Regions from separate parts of the Homo sapiens genome. Here region 1 is linked to region 2. A link means that fine-mapping ties the variant in region 2 to the expression of a gene that starts in the linked region. Tissue or cell type: esophagus muscle. Region 2 holds a variant in brackets; the other region holds the start of a gene. All regions are shown on one strand. Distances are from middle to middle.

The links. PIP is the estimated chance that this variant, and not a neighbour inherited with it, causes the effect.
Region 1: it holds the start of CNGA1, and the variant in region 2 is fine-mapped to the expression of CNGA1 in esophagus muscle (GTEx, PIP above 0.99). The same link has a PIP of 0.9 or more in aorta, breast, lung, sigmoid colon, subcutaneous fat and sun-exposed skin.

The regions. Positions count from the first base shown.
Region 1 is chr4:48,012,796-48,020,795 of GRCh38, reverse strand. CNGA1 (cyclic nucleotide gated channel subunit alpha 1) reads left to right here and starts at 4,115. Exons shown (of 11, transcript NM_001379270.1): 1 at 4,115-4,313. It overlaps NIPAL1 (NIPA like domain containing 1), which reads right to left and starts at 4,024. Exons shown (of 6, transcript NM_207330.3): 1 at 3,911-4,024. The coding sequence starts at 3,956. RefSeq lists silencers at 3,389-3,548, 3,839-4,168 and an enhancer at 3,933-4,434.
Region 2 is chr4:47,945,070-47,953,308 of GRCh38, reverse strand. It overlaps CNGA1 (cyclic nucleotide gated channel subunit alpha 1), which reads left to right. Exons shown (of 11, transcript NM_001379270.1): 4 at 606-726; 5 at 1,840-1,956; 6 at 3,414-3,476. The coding sequence starts at 620. The region is part of intron 1 of LOC101927157 (a long non-coding RNA gene); the gene reads right to left. Among named protein-coding and RNA genes, the nearest start is that of NFXL1, 35 kb to the right of the region's middle. The variant G/A (reference allele first, on the strand shown) is at 5,011.

The DNA.
Region 1 (8,000 bases), 68 kb before region 2:
TTCAGTATTCAGCCCCTTACCTTTCCCAATGTGGGCAAAGGTGCTTCACCTGATGTTGGGCTGGAAGTAAGTTGGTGGCCAATGGGAAGTCAGCAGAAGTGATATGAAGCTAGATTTCAAAGATGCTTATGTGGTTGGGTTTACTCATTTGCATCTCTGTAATTCCCTGAGGAGCTGCTGTCCCTTCAGCCTCTGCACCCAAATGAAGACACATGGAGCAGATCTGAGCTCATCCCACATGAAGGAGCCAAACCCAGGTGGACATTAGCCTGAAGCAGAGACATATAGGTGAGCCCCATCTAGATCAGTCAACCTTCAGCTGACCTAGAAACCTAAGCAAGAATATGTGATATACCTGCCTATTCATATTAGCATGGGAATGACTGAATGAAATCTCTTTATATCTGTTACAATTTATTCTCCAAACGCTAACCAGTGGGAAGTAGGTTATATCACTCCCTGGCTTAATACTCCCTGTCCCCTGTCATGGTTTTTCATCTCAACTTACAACAAAATCTCAACTCCTCACTAACTTTGAACTTTAAAGCTTCTCATGCTCTGAAACTGGCTCGTCTCTGACATCATATTGCATTACTCTCCCTCTCACCCCTCTCTGAAACACTAATCTTCTTTTCCTTCATTCAACAAATATGTATGGTGTACTACCTGTTGGGCATTTTCTAGAATCTGGAGATAGAAAAATGAATACAACAATGGTCCCGCTCTCTTATATTCCAGTGGGGGCAGATAGGATTAACAAACAAATAACTATACGTATGTTAAGAGTGCCATAGCAAGTAGTAAAAGCAGCATCAAGGAATATATTTTTTAAAACAGGATTAAACAAAAGAGCCTCTCTGCTAAGTCTAAAAGCAGAAACCCTGAGGGGTTGAAGAAACTGCAGTCAGCCAGGTTGCCTGGGGTGACAGAAAGGGAGATGGTATGAGATGTGGCTAAAGAGTAGGTGGGAGAAGGATCAGGTGAAATGAACCTTTAGACAAGTAGGTCTGATCTTGTCATTCCTCCTTCCAAAACTCCACAAGGGCTTCCCTTCTCATTCCGAAAAAAATCCAAAATTCCCACTATAGCCTATAAGGCCCTGTGGAATCCTGTCTCCAGCTGCCTAACCTCATTCCCTACTATTGCCTTTTCTTCTGTTCCTTTCATAGAATAAGTTCCTTCTCACCTTAAGCTTTTTAAAAAGCAGCTGTTCCTGAGCCTGTTACAGAGTGCTGGCTGGCATAGCTAGCTTCTTCTGAGTGAGAGGACTAAGCAACTCAGAGAGGCCTTTCCTGCCTTCCCAATCTAAAGGAACCTCTCAGTCACTTTCCATCATATGTTCCCAATCAAATAGACTTCCTCATATGGCTTAATTACAGCTTTATAACAACCTTCATACATATTTGCATTTGTTTCTTTTAAAGATAATTTTGGATTAGAGACTCTTTTGAAGCATCTATAGCTTTAAAAGTCAAAACCAATGTGGGGTGGGGGATGGCTCATGCCTGTAAACCCAGCACTTTGGGATGCCAAGGTAGGAGTATCACTTGAAGTCAGGAGTTCAAGACCAGCCTGGTCAACACAGTGAAACCCGTATTAAAAATACAAAAATTAGCTGGGCATGGTGGCATGTGCCTGTATTCCCAGCTACTTGAGAGGCTGAGGCAGGAGAATTGCTTGAACCCAGGTGGAAGTTGCAGTGAGCTGAAATTGCACCACTGCATGCCATCCTGGGTGACGGAGTGGCACTCCGCCTCAAAAAAACAAAAAAAAGTCAAAACCAAAGTATGAAATTAACTTTTTCTTCATGGAAGTTCAACTGGAATGTTCTATCTTCAGATCTCATGACTGACCCCTTGTCATTTGGGTCTCAGCTTGAATATCACTTTCGTAAGGGGCTTTCATTGAATACCCAATCTAAACATCCCAACACTCTTGATACATTACTGCTATTATAATGATCTTTTAAATTACTTTGTTTCTTGCATAGTAGCTGCCATCTGAACAGTAAGGTGCCTGAGAGCAGGAACCTAGTCCTAGAGTCTGGGACCAGACTGTCTTGCAGATCCCTCTATCCCAGCACCTATGCCAGTGCTTGGCACATGGGACTCTTGTTATTTGAATGAACAAGTGAAAAATTGAGTCTTTGTTTACTCCATGTCAAGCTCTGAGTGGTGTAGTTCATATGTAATCCCACCTGCACCTACTCTTCAGAACTGTAAACTGGAGGGATGACCCCCAATTTATAGACAGGAAAATGCTCAAGGAAGCTAAGTTACAGCTCAGACTGTCTGATGCCAAAGCCTAATCTCTTCCCACTACTAATAACGTGCATTCAGATTTCTAAGTCTTTCTCACCAGCTTTTCACACAATTAATTACCATGGTTAATCACAGGTATTAAGCCTGGAGCTTAAATGTTTCTTGTTGGAACTCAATGCATAAGCAAAGCAGGAAAAACATCCAGAAGCTCAAACAAGTGGGTGTAATTCATATACCTTCCTTACTTACAGATCCTTGGGTAAACAAGTGTGGGTGTGTTAGTAACTGTCAGATTTGCTGGGTTAGAAATTATTTAGAAAAAGGGCACACAACCTGACTCTCTAGGAAATAATTCTAGATTCAGCTGCCTTAAAATTTTTGTTTTTTAATAGTTTGTGAGTTGTTCAGGCGTTATTGCTCTTTTTCAGAAAAAAAGACTAGAAAATAATTCTAGATCCAGCGGCCTTAAAAAATTTTTTTTAATAGCTTGTGAATTGTTCAGGCATTTTTCTCCTTTTTTTGGTGTCCCTTCTCTTCCTTGCTAGCATGGTTTGGACGAGCTCACTTGTTAAAAAGGAATAAGCTGGAAGAGTCAAGAGGAGAGGAAACTAGGGAAGTTGCGAGCACCTTTGCAAAGGTGTATATGTATATACATATATATATATATATATGTGTAAGGGAACTATATATATATGTGTATATATATAGTAGTTCTTACCATGCCTTTCACTGCCTCCCTTCCCCTTTACTGCATTATCAGGTAAATTAAAAAGCTGCTTTCCCCTTGGTACGGCGAAAACCATCATTTCAATGTATCTACATCCTTCCAGTCGCTCCCCCTACCCCCTTCCCTACTTTTATCGGGGCCTTCTGTATGGAGACTGCAGAAAACCCGCCAGTGTTGCGAACACTTGGCGAAGGGCAAGGAGCCTCGCCCAGAGATTTCACGGGGCTCAGGTGAGAAGCAGTAAGAAGAGCCTGCAAACGAGTGCTCCCGGTTCCAGGTTTCCTCTCCAGTACGGCTCTCGCCTTAAGCAGCCAGAGTGACTGCACAGCGAGTCAGACAGGCTCATGGGTTTGGAGACCTTTTCATTTCCAAGGAAGAGGAGAGACGTGGGCGGCCCAGACTTGCCCAACGCCCACCCCCGCGGCCCCGGGCGCCCAACCTCTCGCGGTGCTCGATCCCCGGGAGCCAGCGCAGGGCGCAGCGCAGAACTCCCACGGGCCCCCCAGGCAGACACGCCCTCTGCCCACCGGGTGACGTCGGCCGCAGACTCTGGAAGGGAGCCTGAGTCAGAGGAAACGTCCTTCTCAGAGGGACTCGGGATTCTTCCCATAGCATCCTGAGTTTCCCCGTCCCACACGCAGCACGCGGTAATTTACACTGGTCGGCCTCGCGAATCGAGTGGGAGTCCCACCTGCCTTATTCCACTCAGGTTTTCCAGCACAGCCCGAATCGCCTAGGCACCCATAAATAAGTGTTGAACGCCTGGCTGGACGGCCGACTGACTGAATGAATGAATGAGTGAACGACTACGTTTAGAGTCGGTACAGCCCCCCTTTCCAGTCTCCGCAAGTGTCCGGGGACCGCCCACCCGGTCTCTTCGCCACCCAGCTGCCAGGTCCCTCGGCTCAGGGCAGACACAAACCTTCTCGGCAGGGCTCTCCGGGCGGCAGCCTCACCTGTGCCCCCATGGCCCCGGGAGCGGGCTTCCGGAACGCGGGCGCTTGCTCCTCACCTGGGCCTCTCCACACGCACCCGCGGCGGGCGGGGCTGCGGGGTCTGGGAATGGGGCGCCCTGACCCCGCCCCCGGGGCAGCCTCCGCCAATGGGCATGGCCAGGCGGGGCCTCAGCGCCAGCCGAGCCCTGCTGCCCGGGGCTTGTTGCGAATTCTCAGGGCCCCCGCAGGCCTGGGAGCGGCCTGTGATAACTGGTGTATCTGGCAGGAGTAGCAGCTGCCCCTTGGCGCGACTGCTGGAGCCGCGAACTAGAGAAACACAGACACGCCTCATAGAGCAACAGCGTCTCTCGGAGCGTGGAGCCCGCCAAGGTAACTCCGGGAATTGAGTGGAGTGGAGGCTGCACTGAGGCCCCCTTCTGGCTCCTCTCTGGTCGAAAAGGCTCCCCCGCTAGAGAGAGCCCTGCTGCTTTTGGAAGCCTTCAGGTGTTAGTTGCTTTGCACCGAAGCTGCTGACTGCTGGGGTTCTGCGCCGATTGCCAGGCTCAAGTTTATTTTGGGGGCTGCTGAGCAGACTTTGCCCTTCTGTGCTGTTATCAGCTTCTGTCGCTGTCCGTCCACGCCCGCTATATCCATCCACTCTCCGTTCTGTCTCCAGCAGGCAACTCCCCCTACCCTGCCCCATTTTCTGGGTCATAGGGGTATTTGAAATAAACCTTTAAGGGAAAAGCAATGCCAAAACTGGAAAGACTTATTTCCACGAATTATTAATAACTAATGTTTATGATATCCTTGTTATACCATACATATGCAGGCACATTATGTATTAATTAAATCTCACAGCAGTCTATTAACGCTCAGTTTACAGATGAGGGATTAGAGGCAAAGAGTGAGGTTAAGTAACCAAACCAAGGTTGGAAGACCTGATAGCAGGTATTTACAAAACAAGGAGTGGGCAGGGCTGGCGGGTGGCTCACCCCTGTAATCACAGCACTTTGGGAGGTTGAGGCGAGTGGCTCTCTTGAGTCCACAAGTTCGAGACTAGCCTGGGCATCATGGTGAAACCCTGTCTCTACAAAAATTAGCCAGATGTGGTGGTGTACTCCTGTAGTCTCAGCTACTCAGGAGGCTGAGGTGGGAGGACGGATGACTTGAGCCCAGGAGGTGGAGGCTACAGTGAGACATGATCGAACCACTGCACTCTAGTCCAGGCAACAGAGTGAGACCCTGTCTCAAGAAAAAAAAAGGTGAGGGGTGGGGTAGTGAACAATTCGGGCTCAAACCCTCACCAGGGAGAACTGGGGTGCCTTTGTGCTCTGGCATTTTAACACTGAGGAAAATATTCTCATGTACTCAGGTAGCCTTTGTTCTAAGTAGGCATGAACAGTGCTATTAATTTTATTACCTAAGAGTTTCATAGCAGAGGCCTCAATCTTGTTTTTCTTGTTCTTAGGCGGATGAGAGAAGAGCTAAGAACAAATTAGTCAACATACCAGTCCAAGGCACCCACTTTTATAATACATATGGATGACTTTGCAGAGAAGGAACACCACGGAGAGTGGAATAGGTGAAAGTTGAAAGCGAGGGAGATTTATGCCAATTTTCCATAACAAGCCTTAAAACTTAGACTTCTTTTTGTTTGCTTGTTTGTTTGTTTGGCTTGGTTTGGTTTTTTTTGAGACGGAGTCTCGCTCTGTCGCCCAGGCTGGAGTGCAGTGGCGCGATCTCGGCTCACTGCAAGCTCCGCCTCCTGGGTTCACGCCATTCTCCTGCCTCAGCCTCCCGAGTAGCTGGGACTACAGGCGCCCCCCACCACGCCCGGCTAATTTTTTGTATTTTTTTTTTTAGTAGAGATGGGGTTTCACCGTGTTAACCAGCATGCTCTCAATCTCCTGACCTCGTGATCCGCCTACCTCGGCCTCCCAAAGGGCTGGGATTACAGGCGTGAGCCACCTAGCCCGGCCCAAAACTTAGACTTCTATTTAAACGTTTTCTTTGGATTTCCAACTTAAAATTTTGTCTTTATCAAAAATTAGTAATGATGGTAAACGTGATCTATGGTGCTTATTTTTTATTTAACAAACACTTGGATAGCATTTACTATGTGGCAAGCACTATTCTAATCTCTTTGTAAATATTTGCTTTATAAATCTTCATGAAAATCCTGTAAGGTAGATACTACTACCCCCACTTTACAGCTGAGGAAATGGAGGCACACAAAGATTGAGTAACTGGCCTATGCACACATAACCAGTAAGTGTGGAACCAAGATGCTAACCAAGAAAGCTGGGCTTCAAGTATGTGCTCTTAACCCATTTGGTAATTGGACATTAAAAAACAAAACAGACTTTAAAAAATGTATCTTTATTGAATTTCAGTTGCATATTAAGGTCTACTTTAGGTAAGAGGCATTTTGTTGTAGTTCTTGCTTTTCAATTCTGAAAATAAAGAGAAAAAATTCAGAAAAAAAATATTTAAACTCATTTAAGACCACTGCTTTTCCAGTTTAAATGTTGCCTAGCAGAAATTTATAATATGTATTTTCCTTCATTGATAATTTCTAGATGACTTTGGGGAATACCGTTATAGTACCACACACTGTCTTTAATGACATAAAGTTGGGGGATATTTATTCCCCCGCAAAATCATGTTGTTTGTTTAACTAAAAGAAGAGCATTAAAAAAATCTCCAACTAGCCCATTCTTTGATTCTAGGAAAATTACTCTTCTGACTCAAAAATTAGAATGCGATAATAACTGAGACCCTCTAAAATGCCAACTTCTGTTTTATTGGTCTTTGTGCTAGGACACTTAGACCCAGGGGTGATGGTCAAAATAAATAATGATTAGTAGAGCCTTAGGGCCTCAAGGGACAAGGCCACAGGTCTTTCGAGCTTGGGGAGGTCTGGGAGGGTTCCTGGTGTGTCAAGGTTAACCCCTGAGTTGCTACATTGTAGGGAGGTCTGTGGTTTCTGGGGCAAGGAATAAGATGACTAGACAAGAGGGGTGGTAGCTGGGGAGTAGAAACCACCTTTGCAAAAATTATATCACTGAGAAAATTTTAACAGTAAGCTGAGTAATTCATCCTCCATCTTGCCTTTCCCTTAATTATTCCTGGGTTATTGAGTTGTGAAAGAAAATCAATAGTGGAGCCCCCAAATCACTAAGCTAAAGGGAAAAGTGAAGCTTGGAACTGCTTAGGGCCAACCTGCCTCCCATTCTATTCAAACTCACACCTCTGCTCACTGACATATCTGATCGCCTCCTTTGGAGAGGCTAGTCAGAAACTCAAAATAATGCAACCATTTGTCTCTTATCTACCTATGACCTGGAAAGCCCCGTCCCTGGTTCCAGTATTCCTGCCTTTGCTTTGAGTTGTCCCGTCTTTCCAGACAGAACCAATGTTCATCTTGCATATGTTGATTGATGTCTCATGTGTCCCTAGAATGTATAAAACCCAACTGTGCTCTGACCACCTTGGGCACATGTCATCAGGACCTCCTGAGGCTGTGTCATGGGGTTGTGTTATCAACCTTGGCAAAATAAACTGTAAATTCACTGAGACCTGTCTCAAATTTTTGGGGTTCACATTTTGGTAACCACAGAGGGATTCTGAGTGGAGATGCCCCTGACCTTTGGCAAACCTCTTATCAGTGCTTGGTACCAGCATGAGCTAATTTTACAGCTCAAACCAATAGGACAATTTGCTGAGGTCTGAGAGCACCCCCTCCAGAGAATCCCTGATTTCCCCAAATTTGGTCAAGATCTAAAGTTTATTTTGCTGTACAACTTCTCTTTTTTGGAGTTTTACTTGCTTCTATCAAGAAAGACAAATTTTCTGTTTCCATGACGTTGGAGTTTGGCTCACTTCCAACAGGGAAAAGGAGTGTTTTTTTTTTTGTTTTGTTTTGTTTTTCCTGCTTCTTGAATGGTAGAGAGCAGTCTATAGCCAGAGACTCGTCCCTAGGTAAGTAACTGAATTGGGGTTTGTCTTGGTTAAAGTTAAGATTAACGACCAACTGGTCTTAATTTCTCCTTACCATTAGAGCACTCAGTTATC
Region 2 (8,239 bases):
TAAATGTTTTATAAGTCTGGTACATTCTTAAATTAAAAATTTTTTTACAAAAAACTGGTCAATGGAAATTAGGGGAACAGGCCATGCCTGCATTCTATTAAAGAATAATTCCTATGTAAAACTGCAAACAGATGGTATTATATAGTCTTAGAAAAATGGTAGGGTTGATATGGTTTGGCTGTGTACCCACCCAAACTTCATCTTAAAGTGCGGCTCCCATAATCCCTATGTGTCATGGGAGGAACTCAGTGGGAGGCAGTGGAATCATGGGAGTGAGTTTTTCCCATGCTAGTCTCATGATAGTGAATAAGTCTCATGAGATCTGATGGTTTTATAAAGGGGAGTTCTGCTGCACAAGCTCTCTTGCCTGCTGCCATGTAAGATGTGTCTTTGCTTCTCCTTTGCTTTCTGCCATGATTGTGAGGCTCCCCCTAGCCATGTGGAGCTACAAGTCCATTAAACCTCTTTCCTTTATAAATTACCCAGTCTCAGGTATGTCTTTATTAGCAGCATGAGGACAGACTAATACATAGGGTGAAACTTTTGATTATATATGTAAATATATAAAAATAGCCTTTCCACTAATAAGACTTCTTTCTCCTCAGATATGAAACTATCCATGAAGAACAATATTATCAATACACAGCAGTCTTTTGTAACCATGCCCAATGTGATTGTACCAGATATTGAAAAGGAAATACGAAGGATGGAAAATGGAGCATGCAGGTAAATCCAAACATTTTCCCATGCATTTTTATTATTAGCTACAGTTCTTTAATTTAACTAGATTTAATTTCAATTTAGCTTTATAATTTGTAACCTTGAACTTTGTAATGTATTTAGCAAATTTATTTACACTTTGGAACTGCATAACTTGTCTAACAAATGAACATAGATTTTATTTATTTATTTATTTATTTATTTATTTATTTATTTATTTTGAGATGGAGTCTCACTCTGTTGCACAGGCTGGAACGCAGTGGCACAATCTCAGCTCACTGCAACCTCTGCCTTCTGGGTTCAAGTGATTCTCTTGCCTCAGCCTCCCAGGTAGCTGGGACTACATGTGTGCACCACCACACCAGGCTAATTTTTTTTTTGTATTTTTAGTAGAGACAGGGTTTTGCCATATTGGCCAGGCTGGTCACGAACTCCTGACCTCAAGTGATCTGCCTGCCTCGGCCTCCCAAAGTGTTGGGATTACAGGCATGAGCCACCATGCCCAGCCTGAACATAGATATTATTGTGGTCACTTTTTTGGAAGCATCTATTAAGCACCTATGCCAAACATTTCTTTAGTCAATGGCAGGGCTTTTCCTCAAGTGACATTTTGAATCTAAAGAGATGACATTGCCATAGATACATATGAAAAGTACTCAGAGTATGAAATGCTAGCAATGTGATTTAAAAGTATAATTTAAAGTGCTTACCCTATAAATGAATATAATGTATATGAATGTGGTTGAATTTACTTTTAGTGGGACGAAACATTAGTTAGAAAACTAGTTCACACAAAGGTATAATATGATCTAAGTCCCAGATATCACACTTGCTATTTGATAAATATTAACATCAACCAATGCATCAAACAATAGGAATGTGGAAAACCTAGAAACTAGTTTCTTAGTTAAATGCATTTTACTGAATTATGCACATATTTTATATAATTCTATGTATTTTGTATAGTTCTAACTTTATGCTAACTAAAAATTGTTATGTGTGTTAGTTTGAGAGGGAAGGAAAAGAGGTGAGGCAATTGTCCCCCTAGTGAGGAATGTTGCCTCTCTGCAGTGGTTGAAAACATTAACTCTTCTCTCTCTGCCTCCTATTGGACTGTAGCTCCTTTTCTGAGGATGATGACAGTGCCTCTACATCTGAAGAATCAGAGAATGAAAACCCTCATGCAAGGGGTTCCTTTAGTTATAAGTCACTCAGAAAGGGAGGACCATCACAGAGGTGAGCAGTATGATCCATCCCTTGGTGCTTGTTTTTAACCATTTATGCTTAAGGTTGCAGTGTTTTGAATTTTTGCAATCAGATCATGGTGATGACCTTGAGCAGTAGGATAGAAATAACTCCCACATGCTTAGCGTTCCAATAATCAAACACTAGGCATAAATGGGTTTGTAAACTGTTGTTTCGGAGCAAGCTCGGCAAATGCCTCTGCTATCTACACACAATGTGGGATCTCAGGAGGAATTACTTCTGTTCCTTACCCATGCCGTCTCTTGGGAAATATTGCCACTGCCCGATGATTATTTATGGCCATGGCGTTCCAAGTTGTAAACACTCTTGCTTCATTTTCCCTGAGACCCACTGGGGTCTGTCCCTTAAGAAACCCAGTCCTTTCTGATTTCTTGTTTCTCTCTGATCCTTCTTTCAGGGTCCTGAAGCAAGTACATGTGAGAGGGTTGGCTGTTATTCTCTAAAATGCTCCATCCCTTTTGGTCCTACTTTTAGGAAATAGAGCACTGGAGAGAGGTGCTAGAAGAGAAAAGCAAAAATATCCTTAGTAGGAAATAAAGAAGTTGTGAAAACTTCAGATACCGGACTTGAGATTGCAGAAGGGGTGTGGTGTGGTATTGGTGTTGGAGCTGGGGTTTCCACCTGTTTTACATAATTACTCTTTCTTTACTTTTTTTTCCTTTTTCTTATTTTTCTTCCCATTGACTACCTCCAGCCTTCCCATTGTTTTTATTTAGCTTTTCTCCTCATCTTACTTTCCCTAACAGTCTTAGGTTTCTTGTTGGGAGTTACTGGCATTGAGGTTGGTTCACTTAAGCTAATTCTTGGTATGAACATTGACTGATATGCATTTACTAACCATGTCCATTTTCATAATGTTATGAAGAAATACCCGAGACTGGTTAATTTATAAAGAAAAAGAGGCTTACTGGACTCACAGTTCCACATGGCTGGGGAGGCCTCACAATCATGGCAGAAGGCAAAGGAGGAGCAAAGTCATGTCTTACATGGTGGCAGGCAAGAGAGCATGTGCAGGGGAACTGCCCTTTATAAAACCATCAGATCTTGTGAGACTTATTTACTAGCACGAGAATGGCATGGGCAACACCCACCCCTATGATTCAATTACTTCCCACTGGGTCCCTCCCGTGGCATGTGGGGATTATGGGAGCTATAATTCAAGATGAGATTTGGGTGGGGACACAGCCAAACCATATCACTATGTTTGTTCAAGACACTGGCATTTGGCAAGTCATGCTTCATGGAGGCTCAGGATATACTTTTATGCTTTATGCTTCATAATATGTTTTTGAAATATCTATCATCTACATAGTCTTTAGTAATGAGTAGAAATGGAGAAGAATTTGTTTTTTCAGACCATTTGCCTACCATGGACATTATACAGATGGTGACTACTGTGATTTCACTGCATGTTTTTCATTTCCCAGGGAGCAGTACCTGCCTGGTGCCATTGCACTTTTTAATGTGAACAACAGCAGCAATAAGGACCAGTAAGTATATTTACAATAGAAAACCAAAGTTTTGGTTTTAAAGAAAACCAGTAAAAATGTAGGAATATATCTGAATCTGTTATAGAGGAAACATTTATTAATCAAATGATCTAATACAATGGCAATGATAGTCTTATCATTTTGTTGAAAAGTAGTGTTCATTCATTTATTTGAATACATGTAGAAAAAATCATGTCTATAGTGTTCATGCAGTTGACTTTCTCTGTGAATAGAGTGACTGACAAAAATAAGTGAATTTTTGTCAGGAAATATTACTCCTTTCCAGTTTGAGCCAATGTGTCTTAGGTGAATTTCCTCAGGAGACAGTTTCTGAGATGGAGGCTTGTATGCAGAAGTTTGTTGGGAATGGTCTTGGGAACAATATCTGGAAGGGAGTTGGGGGTCAGTATTGGGCAGAGGGAGAAGTCGAACTTCAGAGAATAGAGCTGATGTACAATGTGATTCTCTGGGGATCCCTGGAGCAGGGATGACCTTTTAGAGTTGTCCCTATTTAGGTAATAGACTTGGGCCTTTGTTCCCATGCACAGTTATTGGAAAAAAGTTGGCCCTAGAAGATGGAGCATAACCATCTGGATGGAGCATGGTGGTTTCCTTCAGCCAAGGCCAGCCAAGGGAGAGGAAAAACTGAGCTGACAGCAACCAACACTCTTGGCAAGTGGGGAATGAGTGCCTGAATTTTGTGCACCACCTGCATAGCCACTGTATGGCCCAACCGTGTGCTGCCCAGATCCATTTTGTTTATATAGAAAATTCACCCCATGTGGGAATACCTACTCCAGGATCCTGGTTATTTTTTCCTGAGAAAGCTTATAAGAGTAAAGTTAATGGGATTAAACTAAGGTCTCTGGCAGTTGCAGGTGGTTTTGAGGCCTCAAATGAAATTCTTCACCCTCTCCGCTTCTACTCATTCTAGGGTCCTCTCACCCTTAGCCAGCACATCTGCTGGTCTAGATGACTTAGCTGGTGGAACAGTACAGACACTCATCCCTGAAGAACTTGAGCCCTGGGTCACCATGCCCTTCTTGAGTCATGGCTACAGTACTTGCCCATTTACCACCAAAACTGGGCTGGAAAATACCAAAAGACCACCTAGGTGCAAATACATCTCCCCTCCCTGCATTGTATACAGCACTGCCTACTTCTGATGATCACGGTCAATAACTTTTGCCAGTGTGGTGACTCTCTTCCTTGCCTGTTGGGCATGAGGGGACCAAAGTGGCTGGGGAGTAGCCGTAGCTTAATGTTTAATGGAACTCTGGCATTCCCTGGCAGATGCATCACCCCTCTGGAAGCCAGGACCTCTAGATCCATAGATCCTTAAGTTGCAAGAATGGGAAACATACCTTTCCTACATTTGTCACCCCTACTTAGACCCCATAGTTCCCAGACCAATGCATTCTATACAGGCATAGAGAACCATACAATGATCATTGTTTTAGCATATATACAGTATCCTAGAGGATGGCACCTTTTCTTCCTAGAGTATAAACTCTATGATAGCACTTCAGCTGTG[G/A]TTTCAAAAAGTCCCTCCTTAACTATCATGTCAGTAGCTGACAAAGGTGTGCAGCTTATGATAGGACCACTGGATCCCAAACTCAGGTTCCAATGCCACATTTTTTTTTTTTTGCCTTAAAGTGGGTCCTTGGTCCAAAGTGATGTTAAGCAATATTTCATATATAGTGATCATGCTTCATATGCCCCTAAATAATGGCACTGGTCAAAGCCCTGTGGCAAAAAAGCAAATGAATAGTCATAATATATGTCAGTTCTTATCAATATATTTGATGCCCCTTCCATGGTGTCAGGAGTCCAATTTAGTTAACTTGCCATCAAGTGACTGATTACTTTCCTCAGGAGAAAGCACTGTTTTGGAGTCATAGCATTGGTCTCTGTAACAGGCATGTTCACTACGAGCAAAAAACAGACAAATAAAAACAAAGATTTTCAAACTTTGTGCTCACACTCATAATATGTCCATTCAGTCTGCCTCTTCTGAAATATTTTCCCTGATCTTTCCATCGTTTTCCATCCAGGTCCCTGACCAACCAGTCAAGGCATTTGTGACTGCCCACGAGTCCTTTTACACATGTATATTCTTAATTTGGGCTATTTCTTTTTCCCTTTTTTTTTCTTTTCTTTTTTGAGACAGGTACTCACTCAGTTGCCTGTGCTGGAGCGCAGTGGTGCAATCTTGGCTCACTGCAGCCTCCATCTCCCGGGATCAAATGATCCTCCTGCCTCAGCCTCCCAAGTAGCTGGGATTACAGGCGTGAGCCACCACGCCTGGCTAATTTTTGTATTTTTAGTGGGGTTTCGCCATGTTGGCCAGGCTGGTCTCTAACTCCTTGGCCTCACGTGATCCTCCCACCTCAGCGTCCTAAAGTGCTGGGATTACAGGCTTGAGCCATCGGACCCAGTCTGGGCTATTTCTTTTTCCATACAAACTAGATGACTGTATACTGCTTGAAGCTGTGCCATTGGGGAAATTAACCTCACACTTTCAAGACCACCTCTAAGTGAGGCTGTGGTGCAGACACAGACCATTTTGGCTTGCATCCACATTCTAAACTGACCCATCTATGCAACATGCTGTATCAGCTCCTTCTAAAGAACCCCACATATGACCACAGGTGGGGGCTGATAAATAGGTGCTGAGTGGAAAATGACATAGTGGAAAATAAATGGAAATTTCCAACGTGGAAATGACATAAAGAAGGGTACTGAAGGCCGGGCATGGTGGCTCACACCTGTAATCCCAGCACTTTGGGAGGCCGAGGCAGGCAGACCACCTAAGGTCAGGAATCGAGACCAGCCTGGCCAACCTACATGGTGAAACCTCATTTCTACTAAAAATACAAAAATTAACCAGGTGTGGTGGTGCACGCCTTTAGTCCCAGCTACTTGGGAGGCTGAGGCAGGGGAATCACTTGAACTGGGAGGCAGAGGTTGCAGTGAGCCGAGATTGTGCCACCGCACTCCTGCCTGGGTGACAGAGCAAGACTCCTCAAAAAAAGAAAGAAAGAAAGAAAGAAAGAAAGAAAAAGACGAAGGGTACTGAGCCACCTGCCTGGGCAGCTTACTTATTTGCTCTGATTCATGCTCAATCCCAGATATCTTACTTCATCATATGACGGATTGATACATTATGAATTGTTGTTTCTGACAGAATCCATCTCATAATGGGCATTCTTTTTATGTCCCATGGTTAGGTAATCCTATTTCAGGGCCTGACTAACAGAATGCCATTGATGCAGATATAGTGGACTAATGTGGTGCTCTGAGAAATGTCCACGTGATCCAGGTCCCTCAAGGCTGTCATGACAGTAGGAAAGAAAGTTAATATAGCCTTGGAAAAGAGTGTAGGTGTGTACAGTTTGTTATCCCCTGTGAGTATGAGCTATGTCTGATCCTCTTTCCTGATAGTAATGAAAAATGACATTCACAATGACTGACCCAGAACCTTAGGTATGCAGTGTATATCAAGTGAATGCATTGTTTTCCACATATGACACAGCAGCTGCAATTGGGGCTACTACTTGGTTGATTTTGCAATTGTCTATTGCTATCCATTAGGATCCATTTGGTTTTTGCAGGGGTCTGATGATGAATTATGTGGGGAAATGAAGAGCGATCACCACCCCTGCATGCATTAGGTCTTTAAGGATGGCATTTCTTTTTCTCCCCAGGATGCAATGTTGCTTTTGGCCAGAAGGTGGGAAGCAGCTTAAGGGCTTCTCCTCGGTCTTACACCTCTTTCCTCACAAGCCAAGGAACTAGTGGGGTAGGGGTGGGAGTTGTGCCGATGACCAACTATATACATTTCCCTTTTGTATTCAGGAATTATGTACATTACACTTATACATTTAGGAACTGGAGAAATGATCACAGAGTGGGTCACTGTGTTATTTTCCACATAGGACATGTCAGCTGCAATTGGGGCTACTACTTGGTTGATTTTGCAGTAGTCTCTCTGCCATCCACTAGGATCTATTTGGTTTTTGTGGGAGTCAGATGATAAATTACATGGGGAAATTAAGAGAGACCACCACTCCTCCATGCATGATTTTATACAATTATATACATTTCTCTTTTATATTCAGGAACTTATATACATTCTACTTTTATATTCAAGAATTACATACATTTCACTTTTACATTTAGGAACTGGAGAAATGATCACATAGTAGTGGGTCTGTGGACCCAGTGGGAAACACCATAAGTCATATCTCATCCAGGAATCTATTATTACCAGTCCATCATATGCCCCTCAAGTTTAACAGGGGGCCACGATGATGCTTCAATCCCTAGGTGTCAACATCAACATGGATCCTGTGCCAAACAGTCTTCAATGTATCTAAGTATTCTTTTTTCCCCCAGAGTATAGTGATCTAAGTAATGGTCATAGGTTCTTTAGGAGAAAGACCAGGGAAATCGTTACTGGAATATGTTTGTCATACTGTTGCAGAGTCTTTCTTCATGGGTCTTGGCTTCTCCTCTAGTCATTGGTTTTAGGTCTAAGTACTGGCTTAGGTCTAAGTACTGGCTTAGGTCTGGAACTGTTCAAAGGATTCTGATTTTTTTAAAATTTAAATTGTAATGAATCAATTTATTTTTTGAGATGGGGTCTTGCTATGTTGCCCGGGCTGGTCTTGAACTCCTGGGCTCAAGTGATCCTCCCGCCTCAACCTCCCAAAGTGCTGAGATTATAGCCATAAGCCACCATGCCCTACTAGGATTCTGAT